Linked DNA regions of Homo sapiens. The protein of the gene in region 3 purifies or fractionates together with the protein of the main gene of each other region. This does not show direct contact. Each region holds a gene or a part of one and is shown on either strand. Other genes may lie near its edges.

What was found.
Region 1: the proteins of TKTL2 (region 3) and FBLN5 purify together in Homo sapiens (affinity purification with mass spectrometry; 2 studies listed by BioGRID and IntAct, with this or other methods). This does not show direct contact.
Region 2: the proteins of TKTL2 (region 3) and USP33 purify together in Homo sapiens (co-immunoprecipitation; 3 studies listed by BioGRID and IntAct, with this or other methods). This does not show direct contact.

The regions. Positions count from the first base shown.
Region 1 is NC_000014.9:91,874,579-91,881,694, reverse strand, and holds part of FBLN5 (fibulin-5 isoform 1 precursor), read left to right. Parts: intron 1-276; coding exon 277-403; intron 404-4,012; coding exon 4,013-4,208; intron 4,209-7,116. UniProt on the Homo sapiens protein: Essential for elastic fiber formation, is involved in the assembly of continuous elastin (ELN) polymer and promotes the interaction of microfibrils and ELN. Stabilizes and organizes elastic fibers in the skin, lung and vasculature.
Region 2 is NC_000001.11:77,735,737-77,742,852, reverse strand, and holds part of USP33 (ubiquitin carboxyl-terminal hydrolase 33), read left to right. Parts: intron 1-1,104; coding exon of another isoform or gene 1,105-1,155; coding exon 1,156-1,236; intron 1,237-1,423; coding exon 1,424-1,477; intron 1,478-1,913; coding exon 1,914-1,976; intron 1,977-3,435; coding exon 3,436-3,588; intron 3,589-6,694; coding exon 6,695-6,797; intron 6,798-7,116. UniProt on the Homo sapiens protein: Deubiquitinating enzyme involved in various processes such as centrosome duplication, cellular migration and beta-2 adrenergic receptor/ADRB2 recycling.
Region 3 is NC_000004.12:163,470,126-163,479,067, reverse strand, and holds TKTL2 (transketolase-like protein 2), read left to right. Parts: upstream 1-5,313; 5' UTR 5,314-5,333; coding exon 5,334-7,214; 3' UTR 7,215-7,973; downstream 7,974-8,942. UniProt on the Homo sapiens protein: Plays an essential role in total transketolase activity and cell proliferation in cancer cells; after transfection with anti-TKTL1 siRNA, total transketolase activity dramatically decreases and proliferation was significantly inhibited in cancer cells.

The DNA.
Region 1 (7,116 bases), on a different chromosome or scaffold from region 3:
CAGCCTCCCAATGTACCGGGATTACAGACGTAAGCCACTGTGCCTGGCTCACATTATTTCTTGGTACTAAGTCATCAAAATCTGGTGTGTATTTTCTACTTACAGCACATCTCAATTTGGATCAGCCACATTCCAAGTACTCAGTAGCCACATATGGCCTGTTGCTGCCATATTGGATAGTACAGCTCTGTAGTAAGATCCAGCCTACCCCACCCCCACGCGTCTGGCCTGGCCAATAATGCCCTGCCTCCGCTTCTTGTCTCCCCTGCATTTCAGACATCAACGAATGTGAGCACAGGAACCACACGTGCAACCTGCAGCAGACGTGCTACAATTTACAAGGGGGCTTCAAATGCATTGACCCCATCCGCTGTGAGGAGCCTTATCTGAGGATCAGTGATAAGTAAGTCACGGCGTCCCCCTGGGGAATAGAAACCTGATGAGGGCCTGGCTCAGGAGGTTGGAGGTGTGGTGTGAAAGAGAGTGCACCAGCCAGGAAGTGAGGGGACCTGGCCTACTACCTACGTCATGTGCTCATGCGTGTGTGTGTGTGTGTGTGTGTGTGTGTGTGTGTAGAATAGAACAGAGTAGAATAGATAGAACAGACTGGAATAGAAAATATCAGAGTACATTGCACATAGCAAGAGTCAATATTGTTTTTTGAAACTTATCTTTTAGTTTTGTGTGCTACTGGTTTGCAGTGCAAAGTGTGTTACTGTAGGTTGTCAAAAAGTTTGCAAAACATTCCATTCCAAGTTATAGGGTCTGAAACACATCCCTATATACAAGAAAGAACTATTTTTCAAAATGTTTGACCACAACACACAGTAAGAAACACATGCAAGGCTGGGCACGGTGGCTCATGACTGTAATCGCAGCACTTTGGGAGGCTGAGGTGGGTGGATTGCCTGAGCTCAAGAGTTTGAGAGCAGCCTGGCCAACATGGTGAAACCCCATCTCTACTAAAAATACCAAAAAAATTAGCTGGGCCTGGTGGCACGGGCCTGTAGTCCCAGCTACTCAGGAGGCTGAGGCATGAGAATCGCTTGAACCTGGGAGGAGGAGGGTACAATGAGCTGAGATCGTGCCACTGCAGTCCAGTCTGGGTGACAGAGTGAGACTCTGTCTCAAAACACACACACACACACACACACACACACACACACACGCACGCACACTCCCACAGAGTTCTCTATCACTCCGCTACTCATGCCAGAGCTATGCAAAGATTCTCTAGAAAGCTAACCAAGCCGAGAGTTGAGTCAGGGTTCTAGAATCTCCTCTTCCCTCTAATGACTTTGTTCTGGATACATGGGGTCTTTCAGAGGTTGGCTTCTAAATGTAACACTCATAGGACTCACCTGGTGATCTCGTTAAAGTGTGATTCAGTGGGTTTGGGGTGGGGCCCAAGATTCCGCCTTTCTGGCAAGCTCCCAGGTGAAATGAATGCTTCCAATCTCCCTGGACTGCTCCGTGAATATTGAGGTGCTGGAGAGTTGAGTATTGAGGTGCTGGACAGTTGAGTATTGAGGTGCTGGAGAGTTCTCTCGTTGGTGCTAATCAAGTTTCTGACGTCATCTTGGTCAACATTTTACTAAATCACCAGACGGCAAATATTAGAGTTGAGGAGAGAATTAAAGTGAAGACAACTTCCAAAAGGTGAATGCAGTAGGACAGTGGCTTTCTGTTCCTGGCATAGTAGGAGTTCCTTTTCCTTCTCTTTTATCCCTTTTTTAAACCATCTCAGTTCCTCCTTGGCCTCCTATATTCCAAATGTTCACACATCGACTTCCCTTGAGCAACACCAAACCCCGCATGGGAGACGAAAGGATGAATCAGACACACCCATCCTGCCCTCTCGGAATACAGCCTCTAAGAGAGGAATTCATGGCTTACCAGTGGTACCCACTTTGATAACAAATTGGCAAAAGAGAGGATAATGCCGGGACAGGCGGATCCTTTAGGGACATCTTCACTTGTTGCTAAGAGCTGTGCTACTAAGCAACCCTTTAGAACAGGGCTCTTTGACCCCCGACGTAAGGCCTGTTTGTGGCAGAGCAGAGCTCCAGGCTGCTCTTCCCAGCTTCTATTCCTGGTTCTCTCTGGGTTTTTCCAGGCCACCCCGTCTGTGGCTGGGGAGCTGACCCATTTCAGCTTGCAGCACTGAGCTGGAGTTACTGGTGGAGTCTCTGGCATGACGCTGACAATGCTCCGTGACTCCCTCACTCCAGGCTCCAGTCCAGTCAGACTCCGGCAGCCCCTTCCAGCTCCTTGTCCAGTTCAGGTGTCCTGTGCTCCTGCCAGTCTGAACAGGACTTGCTCATGCCTTTACCCGTGCCCAGGAATGGCCAGCCTCCCTTCTTGTGTGCACATACTTCCGGCCATATGGAAGGCATTCCTTTCATTTCCACATAGCCAGTCCTGCCCCATCTTTCAGATTTCAGCTCAGATGCCACCTCTCCCAGCTGTTTGTGGTCCTCTTCAGCTGGGAGCCATCACTCCCTCCTCCAAACTTCTTTTAGGAAACAATGATTTTCTATGCTGCACATGATACTTTATTGTGGCCATTTTGGCACTAGAGACATTTTGACTTGGCTATTTTGATGCAGCCTTAAAAAAATGAAACTTGCTCTGCCACCCAGGCTGGAGCGCAGTGGTGCAATCACAGCTCATTGAAGCCTCAACCTTTTGGGCTCAAACAATCGTCCTGCCTCAGCCTTTTAAGTAGCTAGGACTATGGGTGTGTGCCAGTGCTCCTGGCATATATATGTATTTGGTAAAGCCAGAGGTCTTGAACTCCTGGACTCAAGTCATCCTCCTGCCTCAGCCTTTCAAAGTGCTGGGATTATAGGCATGAGACACCATACTCTGCTCAGAATGAATGGAAATTTATAAAAAGGAAGAGTAGGCTGGATGGTTTAGATGGAGGAGTCCAAAGGCCTCTCTGAAAAATGACACTTGGGCTGGAATGGGAAAATGAGTTGACTTTAACTAAATAGAGAGTGGAAGATCAGAAGGAACAGCATGTGCAAAGGCGAGAAGGCAAGAGTGCATTGAAGGCACTGGAGATGGTTGGATGTGGACTCTCTTTTGGAAGTAGAACCAACAGGTTTTGTGGATAGATTGGAAGTTAGTGGCAGAAACACAGCAAGGTTGACTCCTAGCGTTGGCCACCACCGCGCGTCTCAACAGACATCTTCATCCTATTGTGAACCCTGGCCCCTAGGTGGAGTCTCAGGGCAGGGTCAGAGACAGAGGAAGGGGGTGTTAGGGGTGAATCAAGGGGTGTCTATAACAGGCATTCTTTGGTAGTAAAAGTCAGTGATTTTATATTAGGGCACTCTGTTAATAGTTGCTTTGTATTAGAGATATTTGTGTCTGTGGTTTATTTCTCCTATTAGAAAGTAAACTATCTGAGGTCAGGATCTTATTATTCATTGAATTTCCAAAATGTCCAATGTCACATCTTGTACATAGTTCTAACTCTTGCTTATCAATTATCGAATGACAAGATTTGATTATATTCGATTCAGTAACATTCCATGCAGACTGGGCTGAGCACAATAGAGAATGTACAAGGATCCCCAAGACCTGTTAATCCAGTTTCTTACTTTAAAAATTTCTTTCTTTCTTCCTTTTTTTTTGTTTTGTTTTTTTGAGACAGGGTCTTGCTCTGCCGCCCAGGCTGGAGTGGCATATTTGGCCTACGTGGCAAATGTAAAGTATCTTGGAGAATGTTCTAATGTTCTGAAAACCAGAGATCTAAGGTTTGTATTCTATTTAGTAGCCAGAACATCTGGTTGGTGAGAAAAGTCCATTCTCTAGGAAACAGAGCTCGCCTACATGCTGGAGAGATTTTAGACTCAAGCCAGGAGCAGAGACATTCTACAGTTATGGCATTTGGATGCTAAAAATGGGGTGGCCTCATTTTCAGTGTTTTAAGAGAGGAAGTAGGCACAGCCAGCACCTGGAATGGATTTCTTGAGTTCTCACGTGATTTCCCTTTCCACAGCCGCTGTATGTGTCCTGCTGAGAACCCTGGCTGCAGAGACCAGCCCTTTACCATCTTGTACCGGGACATGGACGTGGTGTCAGGACGCTCCGTTCCCGCTGACATCTTCCAAATGCAAGCCACGACCCGCTACCCTGGGGCCTATTACATTTTCCAGATCAAATCTGGGAATGAGGGCAGAGAATTTTACATGCGGGTAAGAGGGAGTGGGGAGTGGGGACGCCATCTGTAACAGTGGCCTTGTGCTGTCTCTCCTAGGAACGTGCTGTATGCAAGCAGGTAAGAGTGGGGCTGGGGGACAGGTAGGCAGAGAGAAGAGTGGAGGGTGTGGTTCAAGGTCCTGGTTTCCACCACTTTCTGTGTAGTCTTGCAAAAGATGCTTCTCCTCCTGAGCCTCAGGATCCTCATCTGTGAAATGGGAAGTTAGGCCAAGATGCAATCTTAGGTCTCTTTTCTCCTAATATTCTGTTGGAGAGGCATTCACGTCTCCACTTTTCAACCAACCCATGTGACAAGTATTTCTTAAGTACCTCCTATGCAGGCCAGGCACGGGGGCTGATGCCTGTAATCCCAGCACTTTGAGAGGCCAAGGTGGACAGATTGTCTGAGCTCAGGAGCTCAAGACCAGCTTGGGCAACATGGCAAAACTCTGTCTCTACAAAAAAAAAAGTTAGCCGGTCATGGTGGCAGGCACCTGTAGTCTCAGCTACCTGGGGCAGTGTGGCGGGGAGGTGGTGTGAGATGGGAGGATTGCTTGAGCCCAGGAGGTCGAAGTTGCAGTGAGCTGAGATCACACCACTGTACTCCAATCTGGGCAACAGAGCGAGACCCCATCTCTGAAAAACAATAAAAACTTGGTGACTTAAGGCAAAGGAAATTTATTCTCTCATAGTTCTGGAAGCCAGGAGTCTGAAATCAGTTTCACTGAGCTGAAATCCAGGTGTCAGCAGGGCTGTGCTCCCTCTGGAGGCTCTAGAGGAGAATCCGTTCCATATCTCTTCCAGCTTCCGGGGGCCGCCAGCACTTCTTGACTGTGGCTGCATCACTCCAATATCTGCCTCTGTGGTCACGCTGCCTCCTCTTCCTCCTCTGTGTGTATCAAATCTCCCTTTGTCTCCTTCTTATATTAACACCTGCGAGTAGATTTAGGGCCCATTCAAACAATCCAGATAATCTCTCTGTCCAGATTCTTAATCACATCTGCAAAAACCCTTTTCCTTATAACGGAACGGGTTCCAAGGATTTAGGACTTGCATCTTTTTGGGGGCTACTACCCAGCATACTGCACCCAGGAATCTGCATTTCTAACAGATGCTGCTGTGATCTTCCAGGGTCACTGTGGGGAGCCATATTGAAAAGGTCCATGGGCGTTTATATGCTTTCATTAGAGACTGGGCCCTATGAAGTCATGGGCCACAAGGCAGGAAGACAGAAATCTTCCCGATAAGGCTGGCTTTCCGAGGGTCCATGCTGTCTGAAGCTGCGGGACCCTCCCCGGGAAACCACTCAGTCATTCTAATGTGAGCTCTGGAGCCATGTCTTCTACAGTTTAACAATTTCACAATTGTGTGATGTGACCTAACACCTCTGGACCTCTAGATGAGTGTTTACTTTAGGATTAGATGAGATTATCCACTTAGTGCCCTATCTGGAATACAGTTTTTATCAAAGAAGTGGAGTTTGGTGGTGGGGGTGAAACAGTCAATGACTTTTTCTTTTTCTCACGCTGTTGGATCAAACCTGTGAGCACCTGGGTTACATCTCACGTCAATTCCCTAGGATTCACAGGCATGTTCCATTTCTATTGGATTGTCTCATTCTCTCACGTCAAAAGTCTGTACTAGTTTAAATGGAAACTTCAACCTCTCTGTCTCTTACCCACTGTGAAGTTTCTCCCTGTCTCCTAGTTCAGAGCAGGCAAGGGGTGTGGTTGGCCTCTGCCCTGTCCTCTTGTCACCCTCCCGGTAATGGTAGTGCTGGCCCTGGCTCCTCCAGGGCTGGCAGGGGAGGAGCAGGTGGTAGAAAGGGTAAGGCTGGAAGAGTGAGGCTCCTCCCCGATTGTAGCCATTGTAACCAGGCATTGGTATTCCCTCAGGAGCAGAGCCCCCAAAGCTGTTGCTCTCACAGGGTGCTTTTGTGGGTCTTTTGGAGATTTGCCTGAGGACTTCACACTGACCAGTCCCTGATATGGGCAGTAGGGCCTGTGGTTGGTCACCTGCTACTCCAAACCTCTCAGCCCCTAATTCTGGGGCTATGTCTCATACAGATGTGCCGTGGTGGTAGTGAGGTGGAGGGTATCACTGCATCCTGGCAGCAGACCTTACACAAGGGCCTTTCAGGATGTCAACATCAGCTCCTTGCATTCCCCGTTCCTCTCTATGGTGTGGGGCAGCTCAGGGCTCACATCTCCAGACTTCTCCTGGAGACAGTCTGGTACCACTTTCTGCATCCTTGAACTTCAGGGGCCTGCATCTCTAAACAGTTTTTCTTTTTTTGAAAACCCCTCTTGATTGAGATGGAGGCTAGTAAGTGTGTTTAATAAAATATATGTAGAGTTGGGCACAGGGGCTCATGCCTGTAATCCCAGCTACTCTGGAGGCTGAAGTGGGAGGATCCCTGGAGCCCGGGAGTTCAAGTCCAGCCTGGGCAACATAGTGAGACCCTGTCTCTACAAAAAAAGATTAAAAAATTAGCCAGGTGTGGTGGCATGACCTGTAACCACAGCCACTCTGGAGGCTGAGATGAGAAGATAACTTGAATCCAGGAGTTCAAGGCTGCAGTGAGCTATGATTGCACCACTGCACTCCAGCCTGGGTGGCAGAGCGAGACCCTGTCTCTAAAAACAAAAACAAACAAACAAAAAAGTATGTATGTAGGCTGGAGGGGGTGATGGAATGAGGGAAACATCTGGCTTTGGATCACAGCTTTGTAAGTCCTGTATAACCCCAATAACTCCACACACAGCATCAGCAGCAAGCCGTGTATAGTGCCTGTATGTGCCAGACACTATTCTAAGTGCTTTCTATACAGTAACCCTTTAATCTTCACAAGAATCCTATGATATAGGATGGTTTTATCGTCCAGATTTTACAGATGAGAGCACT
Region 2 (7,116 bases), on a different chromosome or scaffold from region 3:
AACTATTACATAGACCTGCATGGTTTATTGAATAACTTATAAACCACAAAGGAAATTAAATTTACAGTGTTTCTGAAGTTCAAACTTTTAAACTGTTTCATTCTATCCTAGCAAGTTCTAAACTTTTTTTGGGAAAGTGTTCTCAAACCTCAAAGTTGAATTAAGAGCATGAAAAGCCCTGTTATTAAAAAGGTACAACCAAAAGATCTAGGAATACCAAATTAGACTTGAGACCTTTGGAAATCACTCGCTTTACTTGAACCAAACACTGTGGATCAGTAAAGTTTGCATCTCTTAGCCTTATGTGCAAATGAAGCTAATAATGGTGCCTATTTCAGGGGTTGTAAAGATCATGAAAATGGGGTTCTCAAACCTGGAGAGATTTTGTCCCCCAGAGGGTATAATTTAAAACAGTCTAGAGACACTGGTCATCAGAGTTCAGAGTGGTGGCAGGGATGGTCTGTCTGTCTCTTGTGGATAGAAGTGGGAATGTTGCCAAATAACCTGCAGTGCACAGGACAATCCCTCACAGCGAAGAATTATCTGGCCCTAAGTGTCAATAGTGCCGGGATCGAGAAACCCTGATATAAAGTGCTTATCCTGGTATAAGGCCAGGATACCAGATGATTTAATTTATGCCATCAGTAGGGGGTCCTATTAGTAGAAAAATGAAGCTTTCTACTTGAAGTTTTTTTTTTTCAACTCCTAGTCCAGCCTAAGGATTAATTTTTTTTTTAAAAGGATAAAAGTGCTTCACAGTTGAATAACTTGAATATTCCCCCCTTTTATTTATCTATAAAAAGTGAAATGAGAGGGGAAAAGCAGCAAAAGTCATGGAGAAACAAACTTACATTTGTTTATAGATGTCAATTTTAATAAAATGTTTATGTAGTAGAGAAATTTCCAGTGTTCAGATTAACTTCAATTCTGAAAACTCATCTATGTTTGAGAATACACTCTTTTTACAGGGCAAACTTATATCATTCTTATGTTATCTTTTAATCATTTTTAATATGTTAACATTTTAATTTTTTTATTTTTTGGAATCTTTGCAGGCATTGTAAGCATTTATTAATTTTTTTGTGTGTGTTACTTTTCTTATAGGTGTTACCTCATTTTGAAAGTCTTGGGAAACAGGAAAAAATTCCTAACAAAATGTCAGCTTTTCGAAATCATTGTCCACATTTGGATTCAGTTGGTGAAATAACAAAAGAAGATTTGATACAAAAATCCCTTGTAAGAAACAGGTTTTTTCTTCCTTGAAAAACTATTCACTTTTCTCTTGAATGTGTAATTTTCATAAATTACTGTAATACTCTATGAGCAGTATTTTAAAAATATGTATGATGTCATTAGTGCATTAGTGAATTGTATGTGTTTGTGTCAATATAACCAATGTTGTCTTTTTAATTTCTTTTTATAGGGTACTTGTCAGGATTGTAAAGTCCAAGGACCAAATCTTTGGGCATGTCTGGAGGTGTGTATATGTTTTTTCCTGAAAAGATTGCTATAATAATAATAAATTTGGATCTGAATAATCATAACCAGAAAATTTTTGATACTTAAAGTGATTTTTGTAAATTAAACTTGCTTTTAAAAGGTCATTATTAATAACAAAAATTAAACTTTGGAAAGATCTTAATCTGTAGTGCTTTTGTAGTTTTTAGTAAATCACTCAGCTATTTTATGCTTGCCTTTTATTAGAAATGACATAGCTTTTAGCTTAGAAATATATCCTGGTTTTATTTTGTGCCTGGAAACATTTGGTTAAATTTAATGACTGGAAAGTCATTTACTCATTGAATGTAAAACAGGTAATCCAAACTTAATTGTAAATGTAATTGTAATGCTGTTATAAATTTACATGTATATTATAAAGTACCTTATTTTTCTTCCTATATAATTATTTATAGAATAGATGTTCATATGTTGGCTGTGGTGAATCACAAGTAGATCACAGCACCATACATTCTCAGGTATGTATATAAAAAATTTAATGGAAGACTTGTTAAAAAAAGTGCCTGAAGGAAAGGGAAAGCCAGTATAACATTATTAATTCAAGTTGTAATTCAAATTTGCACTCTAAGTTAAAACTTCACTTACATTCTCTGTGAAGGATGGGGAAGGGAATTGCTAGGAGGATGAACATTAGAATGAGGTTGTGATTAAGAAAGCACTGATTTCAAAAGTGTACATCCGGCCAGGCATGGTGGCTCACGCCTGAATCCCAGCACTTTGGAAGGCCAAGGCAGGTGGATCACCTGAGGTCAGGAGTTCGAGACCAGCCTGGCCAACATGGCGAAACCCTGTCTCTATTAAAAGTACAAAAAAATTAGCTGGGTGTGGTGGTGGGCACCTGTAATCCCAGCTACTCGGGAGGCTGAGGCAGGAGAATTGTTTGAACCTGGGAGGCGGAGGTTGCAGTGAGCCGAGATCGTGCCATTGCACTCCAGCCTGGGCAACAAGAGCGAAACTCCATCTCAAAAAAAAAAAAAAAAGTGTATATCCAGATATTTGAAGGTGATAGCTGGCATATTAGGAGGTTGAAGCCCAAGAGAGAGTGGGTGCTTAGGTTTATGACATGGCCTGGCTAACTTCTTTAAGTCTCAGCTCATGTCATATTGCCTTTTCCTGCACATAGTCCTAACTGGACTCACCTTTCTGCTTTGCTCTGGTTGTTTGGTACTTCCCATGTAACTCTGGCATGCCTCTTCTATAGTGTTATGTAGAGCTCCCATTCTAAATGGAAAGTTTCTCGAATGACTTTGTTTTAAGATGCACATTGATACCTCTACAGCATCAACTGTTCTCAACCAGGATTCCTCTATAGAATTAATTAAGCCTGAATACCCAAGCTCTGAGTCATCATTGTATATCATTTGCCTCTTTCTGTGCATCTAAGATGGTATTTGCTGTGTACCACCATTGGGAGAATTGATAAATTAGTCACTCAGATCATTTTTTGTAGGGCTTAATTCTGTAGCAGAACTCTGGTTGTGAAAGGCTAGACTTTTATCTTTCCAAGATTATATATTCTGTATTGCTAGAGCTGTTTTATGCCTTGACTCATGTCATTTGTGTTCTTTTGCCATTCTGATTTCTTAGAATAGTTACTTGCTATTGTTAATTATTTTCTTGTGTTATATTTATTTGTAGACTGCAAAGCAAGGTCTTACACTCTTGCGTTTATCTTTTTGTATAATGAATAGTGAGGGGAGAATGGCAGAGTAATTTCTAGAGTAGGCTTAGATGTTGTTACTGTTTATTATACCTTAGAAGTTTATCTAAAGAATTTTTTTCATGTTCTAAATTAGCTTTTGAGTATATTGTTACTCATCAAAGGCAAGCAGTTTATCTTCTGTTATCTTTTGAAGAAGTCTTTTCAAGTATATGTAATTTTGGTTCCTCTTTTCCCTCTACTGTGAAATTATATAGGAGACAAAGCATTATCTAACTGTGAACCTTACCACTCTTCGAGTATGGTGTTATGCTTGCAGCAAAGAAGTATTTTTGGATAGGAAATTAGGAACTCAGCCTTCATTGCCTCATGTAAGACAACCTCACCAAATACAAGAAAACAGTGTCCAGGTAATAATCTAGATCCACTTAGTTAAGCTGTAAAACATTCCGGTAATAATTTCAGAATTTGTCATGTAGCTGAAATTTTCAAAAGGAATACTGCCTAACCTGTACTTTGAAAATTTCTGTAATGTGCCTTTTTTCTCTCAAATAAAGCACTCAGACTCCCCTTTCTTGTGTTGCTTAGAGTGCTAGATTAGGGTGAGATTGAAGCCCACCTGTTTGAAGATGGAAAAGGCCCTAATGAATTTTTGAAGTTTTTTTTTTTAAATGACTCAAGTAGTCTTTATCTTTTTCTGGTAAGTCTGATTTCAAGAAAGGTGGTGGGCCTTCTTTGATAGCATATGGCAGTTACTAATTCAGCTCTCTTCCCCGTTCTCTCCTCCCCTCCATCCCCTTTGTATTACTGTGAACATTTTACTTATTATTGACAACAAAGTAGAATATAATAAAGCTTAGCATCAGTCTTTGGGTTAAAGATTTTTCTCCCTTTGGGCTGGGTGCGGTGGCTCACGCCTGTAATCCCAGTGCTTTGGGAGGCCAAGGCGGCTGGATCACGAGGTCAGGAGATCGAGACCATCCTGGCTAACATGGTGACACCCCGTCTCTACTAAAAATACAAAACATTAGCCGGGTGTGGTGGCGGGCACCTGTATTCCCAGCTACTTTGGAGGCTGAGGCAGGAGAATGGCGTGAACCTGGGAGGCAGAGCTGGCAGTGAGCCGAGACCTTGCCACTGCACTCCAGCCTAGGTGACAGAGTGAGACTCCATCTAAAAAAAAAAAAGAAAAAAAGATTTTTCTCCTTTTGGATCAAGAGACTTAGAAAACACATGGGTTTGCTTGCAGAATTTATCACTTAATTTTCAGAATTCTTAAAGTCATAGAAAAATAGGAAAAAGGAAATTAACTTAGAATAGTTGGCTTCTTAATCAGATCATCAGTTGATCAGAATTTGATCAGATTTGATTAACAGCAAGTTTTTTTCCTCATGTGTGTTATAGAAATCACATATTTCTGTACTTGTTCATTGATACCAACTGTCAGGTTTTTCTGTTGTATGTTTGTATCACATTCTTATGGTAGATATTTGTGATAATAAATTTGCTTGCCTTACACATGAAAGATGGCTAGATTTTAGTCAAAGAATAATTTCTTGCATTTTCAGTTTCTCAGTTGAATGGCTCTAGTTAATTATAACCATTACTGTTTCTCCCACTTATACCTATTTATCATTCACAAACATGTTTAGTCTTTTTCAAAAGTCCAGATAGTATGAAAATGGCCGTTTCGTTGAATCCTCTTACATTATTAACAAAAGTTTGTCCCACTGAAGATAGCTGAATGGTAATAAGTAGAAAAAGTTTTAAAAAAGAAAAAAGTGTAATGTTATGACTAAAGTTTAATCACACAAGGAACTAATAATATATAAAGGCAAAACTATCAGCATCACTTACTAGAGAAGTAAGTTAAATAAGCTATCTGTTGCCATTTCTGCCAGAAAAGATCAAGATTACAAACTTTAATAAATGTTGAATCTGATAGAATAAGTATACTGATACTTTCCTGATGGCTTGTTAATAATTTTCTGATGACTTGTAAATATGTTAACACATAAAAGGCATAAACTTAATTTCATTCAACTTCCTTATGATCCCATTGTTGAAGAAATTATTCAGAAGAAAACAGTGGTTCAGATAGATTTCTTTAGTGGTCCAAAACTTATATGCTGTTGAAATCCAGTTTACCACAGGATATTTGCAAAATAGTAAAATATTGGAGGCCATGCAAATATTAATAAGATTTTTCAAATAGACATTTTTTCTAGATAGTAAAATTTCAGGTGATTTAAGCCTCTGTACTTCTGTGTATTTAGATATTTTGTAGTGAGCATGTATCTTTTTAAAAGCAATTACTTTATGAAAACAAAATGAAAGTATGAAGTCCACTCAAATGTCCAGTCTCTACAGATGTCAGGAAAGTAAAATCGTTGGGAATTAGTGCATATGCCTGCATTTTAGAGGTAAAGTAAGGCTATAATAACTTGGAGAACCAGAGTACATGCTAAATTCTTTCTGCTATTCAGTTTCCTTCTCTGTTTGGGTGTTGCTGAATGTTGGTTCATTGTAGTTCAATCTTCTGATATTACAAGAGAACTTTCAAATTTTGATTTTTATTTGTCGTCTCCGAATTTTTTAAACTTTAGCTCAAAGTTTTTTTCGTTTTTTTTTTTAAAGTGTTTACTAGCATTTGGCTAACAGGTTATCAGTTGCAACCTCTGAGTCAAGCCAATTGTTGGAAATTAATATTAGAATATTATTATTTAAAGTAAGTGCTTGAACTATTTAATATACGTAAAAGTGTGCAGGCCGGGTGTGGTGTCTCACACCTGTAATCCCAGCATTTTGGGAGGCCGAGGTGGGCGGATCATGAGGTCAAGAGATCAAGACCATTCAGGCCAACATGGTGAAACCCCTTCTCTACTAAAAATACAAAAATTAGCTGGGCGTTGTGGCATGCACCTATAGTCCCAGCTGCTTGGGAGTCTGAGGCAGGAGAAGCGTTTGAACCCAGGAGGTGGAGGTTGCAGTGAGCTGAGATCGTGCCACTGCACTCCAGCCTGGCAACAGAGTGAGACTCTGTTTCGGAAAAAAAAAAGTGTGCAAAGTAAATACAGTAATAAGTATCAGGAGAGATTGTAGAAGTCTATAGATAATGTGTTATGATGAAAAACTTTTGCCTTTTTCCCTGTTGAAAATGAGATCTGAGAAGACAGTGTAGGATAGTATCCTTCGGAGATCTTTTTAGCTATGGTTTACTGTCACATAATTGCAGTTATTGTGGAGTTTTAATTCAGAAAATTCGGTTGTAAAAAGTGCCTTTTTAACTCAAATATATATGTTAATAAAGCGGGACTGACATGCTATTACCCTAGGGTTTTATTTCCTTCAAAATATAAATGTAAGTTTAATTGCTAATACCACAAATTCTTATGGTTCCACTATTAAAATAACATCTCAATAATTTTTATGGTATAGATGTTATATAAGTTACAATTAAAACTTTTTTTAAATTTAAGGATTTGTTCAAGTGTGCTATCTTTTTTTGTTATCAAGGATTTTAAAATACCCAGTAATACAACATTAAAAACTCCTCTGGTTGCCGTATTTGATGATCTGGATATAGAAGCGGATGAAGAAGATGAACTTAGGGCCAGAGGTAAATTAATCCTGTGTAACGCTTCTTTGTATGGCACTGCCCATTTCTTTAGAAAACCATATAATGTAAAAGTTTCAAAATGTGGAGGTAAAATGGGCTTGATAATTAAAACAAAAGGACTCTGAAATTTGGCCTAGTAAAATTTTATTTGCAAAACAAACTTTTGGTTTCTCTGGTGTCAGTTTACCAAAGGTAGGATCCTACTTACTCTTTTGCAGTTGAGCCTTATGATCTTTTTGTTTAACTTGCCTTTTGAGGTCTGTTTGAACAGTGTTTCTCATTTTTCTATTGTCAGTGATGGGGAGGTATTAGGTATAAA
Region 3 (8,942 bases):
CAAGGCTTGTGGACCCACGAAGTTATGAAGAACTCATACTTTCTATTTTTCCAGTCTACCGTACTAAGCACGTTAACTTTTATCTGTAGGTTTTTTTTTTTTTTAATCATGGAGTCTCACTCCATCGCCCAGGCTGGAGTGCAGTGGCGCCACCTCAGCTCTCTGCAACCTCCACCTCCCAAGTTTAAGCAATTCTCTTGCCTCAGCCTCCCAAGTGGCTGGGATTACTGATGTGCAGCACGTTGCCCAGCTAAGTTTTGTATTTTTAGTAGAGACAGGCTTTCACCATGTTGGCCAGGCTGGTCTCAAATTCCTGCCCTCAGGCAATCCGCCCACCTCAGCCTCCCAAAGCGCTGGGCGTTAGCCACTGTGCCCGGCCTGCACTATTTATTTTAATTTCTTTTAGGTTTACAGGAAAAGTGGCTAATAATTGATCTACAGCGCCTGGCCTTATCCTTAGGCTTTTGGCTGCTATAGCTCCAACACATCCTCTGGTGGTGGTGGTAGAGGGGTTGAAAAGAATGGCTGGGCGTGGTGTCTCATGCCTGTAATCCCAGCGCTTTGGGAGGCGGAGGTGGGCGGATCACCTGAGGTCAGGAGTTCAAGACCAGCCTAGTCAACATGGTGAAACACTGTCTCTACTAAATGACAGAGCAACAAGAGCAAAACTCCATCCCAAAAAAAAAAAAAAAAGAAGAGATCACAGTTCTTCTTGTACTCTCTCCTGTTTACCAGGAAGAAAATCTTTAATAGAAATTATTACCAGCTGGGAGACCAGGCAGGAGGATCACTTGAGGCCAGGAGTTCAAAACCAGCCTGAGAAACATAGCAATACCCCATCTCTAAAAGAAAGAAACGATGAGAATTATTACACCCAAAGCAGACTTTTACTTACATCTTATTGACCAGAACTGGGTCAATAAGTGCTGACTGCCATTACTAGCCAAAGGGAATGGCATTGTGATGCTGGTCCTACATTAATTATGATTTTCTCCTGGGACTAGGAGCTGGGCCAAGTTTCTTAAATTTGTTGCCACCTCTCTCTTCTGCCCCTTCTCTCTCCACCGCAAAATAAGGACTTGTAACTGTGGAAAAAGTGGGATAGCATCCTACAGATGCATCATAATAGCATCTGTTAAAATTTTCAAAGCAATAATCCAGGAAGATAAAGTACATTTTTCTTTCCAGGAGACTTATTGCCTTACACAAGAATCTTATTCTCATTTGCTCCATACTTTAGCTTCCAAAGCCAACCAAATTTAAACAGTGGAAGCAAAAGATGAATTCAGCATTTATGTATTTTATATAATTCCATTTTAACAAAACTTAACAGTTTAAATAAGATTTAAGTAAAATTTCAGCGTTCCCAACTCCTAAATATCACTCACCCTCACATGGCAAAATATCTATTTTCACAAATCAGTGTAGACCTACTCAGTAATCGGTAATTGTGTGTTCTGTTTTCTCTGCTGCAGCTCAGTAGAAATTACACTTATCAATTGCTACTATTTAAGTTTTTCCCTCATAGCTACTTGTATTGGTAATCCTGTTAGATTTTGTTTTCATGTGAAGTACACGCTATAATGAATACTTTTAGATACTATGAGAAAAAATTAAGTGAAAAATTTAAGCAAAGTTAAAACAAAAATTATTGCTGCTTTTAAATAGACTTTAAATTGGGGTCAAAAGTGGCAGCCTGAAGGTATATTTTATTTTTCCAACAAAATGTTTATAAGTTTTTCAATTTTGAATGCCTTTAAGTGGTCTTGTATTCTCCAGTTTAACACAGGCCCCTCTAACCCTCTTATAGCTGACATCCAAGCACTCGTGGTAACTCCTTATCCCAGTAGGCACTTGAATTTGCCAATCTCTGCTTTGTCTGGATAAACCAAGATTAATAATAAATGAATAATGTTTTCCTATTTGCAGAACATTTTTGACTGGCTTCCAAAATGATCTCTAAAATGAATAATGAACTTTTCTCCAAGACAACTACATTTTTGGCGTGCTGGTTTAAAAGTTTTTGGCTGACATTTTGTCAGCCAAATAGGGTTTGGCTCCCCTATTTTGTCTTCTAAATAGGGGAGAAGGTGGTATCACGTCTTTGTTTGATTTATTTGACGAAGTTGTGTTCCCAGCCATATTGGGTAATTTTGCATTATGAAATTGTGCATACTTTAAACAAGTTGAGTATTCTTTAGTTGAAATTATTTGCTTGAGACCAGAAGTGTTTTGGATTTCAATTAAAAAAAAATTTGGAATATCTGCATTATACTTAACAACGGAACATTCCAAATCAGAAAAATCCCAAATCCAAAATGTCCTTTGAGCAGTTCCCCTGAGTAACATGTCAGTGCTCAAAATGTTTCAGATTTTGGAGCATTGGAAACATCAGATTTTCAAATTTGGGATGCTCTACCTGTATTTATATATTTTCAATTGTATATTTTAAAATATATTTCAAATTTAAAAGACTAAAATGCTTAAAGAAAATAATTAACAGCTTATATATGTTATTTATATAACATATTAATATAAAATTAATTTTATATAAACTTAATATATATTACATATATTGATATGAGTTTTTATATATAATATATATACTTTTATATATAGTATATCTTTCCAGATATTTTACTATATATATACTTTTATATATTTATATATATATATATATATATATCTTTCCAGAGTTCCTTTTACAAAATCTCAGAATGGTTTATAAGTATTTTACACATAATTTATAAAATATTATTTTCTATATAGTATAAAAAATTCACACGGTCTCACAGAATGATAGAGGGAAATTCACACTCACTATCTAGGGTATTAAATCTCCAAGACTACATTCTTCTCTTAATAAAATTGACCTTTGCTAATGTTAAAATTTTTTTATTTAATACTTTAGGAAATAGCTGTGCAATGTTTTAAATGAGTGAAAGAATGTGGGAACTTGGAAAGAAATGTTAAGAAGTCCCATGTTTTTATTCATGGGAACATTGCCTCATAAATCATTTTTGTACTATCATGTTTACTAATTGTGTGGATTTATTAGAGTTCTTTTTGGCCAAAATAATGGTGAGCTACCTGTGTTTATATTAACTACTTTCCTGTCAGCCTGTAGTAGTTTGCTATTATTTTACTGTGATTATTATTTTTTCTCTAATTCCCATCTTCTGTACTACCAGTTCTAGCCTAGTCTGCTTGTATTTCCTCCTCCTTTATTTGTCTAAAAAGATAAACAAGCTTTAATTTGCAAAGGACATGGAGAGTTATGGATACATGATGACCTCTTAAGAACTTCTCCAATGCCAACATTCCTGCAACAAGTCTTAAAATCAGTAGTGTCATATTATTACTATTTATTCTAATATGTGTCCTTAAAAGTTAAAATGATAGAACTAGTTGAAATAGCAAATAACATTTGAAATATTTTTCTGAGATATAATGCAAGAGATAATAAGTATAAAGAGTAACAACACCCCCTGAGTTAGTTGTTTACAACCCTGACTGAACATTGAAATTGCCTGGGGAAGATTTTAAAATTACTGACGCCTAGATCTATTGCCTAGAAATTCTGATATAATTGGTCTGGAGTGCAGCATGGACATGAGATGTTTTTAAAACTTCCCAGATAATTCTAAACTACAACTAATGTTGAGAACCACTGGTCTCAGACTATCTCCAGATTATGTTATTAACCTTGACTACCCATTATAATCAATGGATGTATTTTAGAAACATAGCTTCCCAGACTCCAGGTCCAGAAATTCAAATTCTATTTTTCTGGGATGGAACCAGGCATTGTGTTTCTTATGTGCCCTAATTTTAACGTGAAGTTAAGGTAAGAATTATTGCTCAAGAAACCAAGAGGTTTAACATCGCAATATGGGAAGGTATGATATATTATCATTGTGTTTTTTTTAATTGTTGTTTTATTGATGACAAACCATAACCTTGGCCTGCTAGAAGAGTTCAATGGCACAAATTTAGTTTTTTTTGTTTTAGACGGAGTCTCGCTCTGTCTCCCAGGCTGGAGTGCAGTGGCACAATCTGGGCTCACTGCAAGCTCCACCTCCCAGGTTCACGCCATTCTCCTGCCTCAGCCTCCCGAGTAGCTGGGACTACAGGTGCCCATCACCACGCCCAGCTAATTTTTTTGTATTTTTAGTAGACACGGGGTTTCACCGTGTTAGCCAGGATGGTCTCGAACTCCTGACCTTGTGATCCGCCTGCCTCGGCCTCCCAAAGTGCTGGGATTACAGGTGTGAGCCACAGCACCCGGCCCACAAATTTAGTTTTTTAAAGTAAGTAACTTTGTCTTAAAAATGATTTGTAGTAATAGTCATTAAAAGATAAACTGAGGCACATTAAAATATTAAAGCATTTATTTGACCATTCAGTGATTCATGAATCTGGTAGCTCCTGATAAAGGAGCCAAGGAGAAGGCTTTTATAGGGTGAATTTGGAAGCAAAGGAAAGATATTTGATTGGTTAAAGTGGAGTACTAGACTTATTTGGGTCATCCCAGTGGAAAGTCCCCAGTTAGAAGTTAGCTGGCAGTTTCTGATTGATTAAGCTTAAATTTCCTTTTTATCATTTACACTGATTTGGGTTTCCTTTCCTTAGGTAGGAACTCATGGAGCTGAAGCTACCTCAGCCTACTGGCCTTCTAATTATTTCAACACAGAAATAGTACTTTACGGCACACTGGAGTTGCAATTCTATTCTGCAATTGGGTGGTTTCAGATTTGTTCTTCCTATAAATTTTGGTCAAATTAGTCATTGCATTTCTTTCTATAAGTCTGAGATTCAGATATTTGGTTGCTCTGAGAAAGTCTCTGTTGAGATAGCATTGCCATACTGGTCAGATTGAAAGTGACTTTGTATCCTTTCTATTAATGTTCTGATATGAAAGAGTGATGACTCGGATATAGTGTTAATGCATTAAAAAAGCACAGCCTGACAAATCGCTTCCTATAATACACAGAAAAATGTCTAGTCTTGAATTTATAACACAGGGAAAGGTAAAAAATTTAATTATGCTTCCTAATGTTGAACATGCACGTGACAAAGTAAATACTAAAAATCCATTCAGCTGGGCGTGGACAGGGAGAGGGAACGGTGCACATCAGAGGGTGCAGGCTACTCCAACGTTTCCGTTTCCTCAGTCTCGCGGGAAGCTCCGTTGTGGGCGCCCCGGCTGGTGGCTGAGCTCAGGCCTTCAGGCAGAGGGGAGGCGAGGGCGGGGCGGTCACGTGAGAGCACTGCCGCGGTGGGTTGTGGGGGTGCTGCGGCGCCGTTTGCTTTGCCAAACCGACAAAAGAGAGATGATGGCCAACGACGCCAAGCCCGACGTGAAGACCGTGCAGGTGCTGCGGGACACAGCCAACCGCCTGCGGATCCATTCCATCAGGGCCACGTGTGCCTCTGGTTCTGGCCAGCTCACGTCGTGCTGCAGTGCAGCGGAGGTCGTGTCTGTCCTCTTCTTCCACACGATGAAGTATAAACAGACAGACCCAGAACACCCGGACAACGACCGGTTCATCCTCTCCAGGGGACATGCTGCTCCTATCCTCTATGCTGCTTGGGTGGAGGTGGGTGACATCAGTGAATCTGACTTGCTGAACCTGAGGAAACTTCACAGCGACTTGGAGAGACACCCTACCCCCCGATTGCCGTTTGTTGACGTGGCAACAGGGTCCCTAGGTCAGGGATTAGGTACTGCATGTGGAATGGCTTATACTGGCAAGTACCTTGACAAGGCCAGCTACCGGGTGTTCTGCCTTATGGGAGATGGCGAATCCTCAGAAGGCTCTGTGTGGGAGGCTTTTGCTTTTGCCTCCCACTACAACTTGGACAATCTCGTGGCGGTCTTCGACGTGAACCGCTTGGGACAAAGTGGCCCTGCACCCCTTGAGCATGGCGCAGACATCTACCAGAATTGCTGTGAAGCCTTTGGATGGAATACTTACTTAGTGGATGGCCATGATGTGGAGGCCTTGTGCCAAGCATTTTGGCAAGCAAGTCAAGTGAAGAACAAGCCTACTGCTATAGTTGCCAAGACCTTCAAAGGTCGGGGTATTCCAAATATTGAGGATGCAGAAAATTGGCATGGAAAGCCAGTGCCAAAAGAAAGAGCAGATGCAATTGTCAAATTAATTGAGAGTCAGATACAGACCAATGAGAATCTCATACCAAAATCGCCTGTGGAAGACTCACCTCAAATAAGCATCACAGATATAAAAATGACCTCCCCACCTGCTTACAAAGTTGGTGACAAGATAGCTACTCAGAAAACATATGGTTTGGCTCTGGCTAAACTGGGCCGTGCAAATGAAAGAGTTATTGTTCTGAGTGGTGACACGATGAACTCCACCTTTTCTGAGATATTCAGGAAAGAACACCCTGAGCGTTTCATAGAGTGTATTATTGCTGAACAAAACATGGTAAGTGTGGCACTAGGCTGTGCTACACGTGGTCGAACCATTGCTTTTGCTGGTGCTTTTGCTGCCTTTTTTACTAGAGCATTCGATCAGCTCCGAATGGGAGCCATTTCTCAAGCCAATATCAACCTTATTGGTTCCCACTGTGGGGTATCCACTGGAGAAGATGGAGTCTCCCAGATGGCCCTGGAGGATCTAGCCATGTTCCGAAGCATTCCCAATTGTACTGTTTTCTATCCAAGTGATGCCATCTCGACAGAGCATGCTATTTATCTAGCCGCCAATACCAAGGGAATGTGCTTCATTCGAACCAGCCAACCAGAAACTGCAGTTATTTATACCCCACAAGAAAATTTTGAGATTGGCCAGGCCAAGGTGGTCCGCCACGGTGTCAATGATAAAGTCACAGTAATTGGAGCTGGAGTTACTCTCCATGAAGCCTTAGAAGCTGCTGACCATCTTTCTCAACAAGGTATTTCTGTCCGTGTCATCGACCCATTTACCATTAAACCCCTGGATGCCGCCACCATCATCTCCAGTGCAAAAGCCACAGGCGGCCGAGTTATCACAGTGGAGGATCACTACAGGGAAGGTGGCATTGGAGAAGCTGTTTGTGCAGCTGTCTCCAGGGAGCCTGATATCCTTGTTCATCAACTGGCAGTGTCAGGAGTGCCTCAACGTGGGAAAACTAGTGAATTGCTGGATATGTTTGGAATCAGTACCAGACACATTATAGCAGCCGTAACACTTACTTTAATGAAGTAAACTAGGCTTATTTCTAAAAAGTCAAGTCTATTGGCTTTGGCCCAAAAGCACTGGTATCTTTGTATTAAATTCATGTTTATTGTCACAAAACCATTATTTATACCTATACAGTTGTACTGTTTCTTTTAAAGCAAAGCCATTTAACATCTTTCTTCATTCCTAATTTGGAAATTAAAGTTTACCTTTCTGTTAATCTATGTATAAATGTTACTCTGAGTTATTAATGTGGATTTTAAAATTGTAAGCAATAGAATAGGAAATAAAACAACTACCTAATACAAATATTTCTGATAAGACTACAAATATCTGACTGAGCTGGGGATTAAAGTAGAGGTAACTGTATCTTAAATGAGTATGATTTCCTTGTAAGTTAAAAAAATTGAAATTTAATTGTAGACTTCAATAGTCCAAGTTTTGAAGGATGTTTGAGCTTTTGTATAATGCCATTTATACCTGCAGTTTTACAGATAATGTTTGACTGCAGTTGCCTTGGAAATTCCTCCAAAGTTTGCCTTCATCTCTCCTCTACAGTTTGGAGGTGATGGTGCAGCAGTGGAACATCTCTTGATGCACCACACTACTTGTGTTCTGTGAAGTGATGAAAGTATAACTGGTTCTAGTTTGCACACTACACACATAGTTTTGTGAAGCTTCAGAAATGTTTTTTCTTTTCCTTGTGGCCAAACCAGTTTGTTAATCTGATTATATTCATCTGCTAATGATACTAAAGTTAATGTAATAAAGCATTTAAAAATCAGATACTTCAGTCTGTGCTGTGTATGTGGGATTTGATTTCTTCCTGATGAAATCCTAAATAAGGAGAACTTGTGTCTAAATAAGAAACAGAGAGAGTCATGACCCCCAGAAGCAAACCTGGAAAAAGGTTGAAGCTGGAGATAAGTTACTAGAGAAGATTGTATGGACTAAAAAGCCATCCCTTAAGCAGACTCCTGACTTTTGGCTGTCAGTGTGTAAATATATGCTTGGAGTACAAGAAAGTACCAGTCAGGCAAATCATAGATGGACCCAAGGTTCCAAACTAAATTAAATTACTCTGTGTCTATGTCAGGTAATTATTTCCTTACTTTTATTACCCTCATTAAGTTCTTTGGAGGCATAACCAATTTGTCTCAGCAATCATTGTCTTAGGAGGTATAATAGAGCCAAAAAATATTAATACTAACCTGGGAATTAGAGAAACCAGGCTCTCCTCATCTGCTACTACCCGTTTTCTCTAAGCTAATTTCCTCTTTTGTAAAATGATTACGAAAATTGCTCTGTTTTTTCATAAGATTTAAAAATTACTTTGTAGAAATAAAAAGTTGACATAAAATCATTGCAGAAGTTTAGAAAATGCAAATAAGTAAAATATGTTTACCCCCCGTTTCACACACACAAAAATCATTTAATTGTATTCACAGCATGTTTTCTGTACATGCTGTGAAAGTGGGCATGTAAAATGGTCTGTTTCCAACCAAACATGCATAAGCACACCTTTAATAATGACAGTAGATCAGATTCTTTATGTCTAATGGAATCTCAGACACCACCAGAAATTATATTTTTTGTAGCTGGAGGGGAAGCCCTTAGGAATCTCTCTTGTAAAGACTCTGTTCCACAAGTTATCAACCAGAGGCTATGAGCTCCAGAGAGAAGAAATAGCAGGTGAGTCTTATGTCCACAATTCTTCAAGTACGAATCATATCCAGTTTTGCTATATTGAATGTT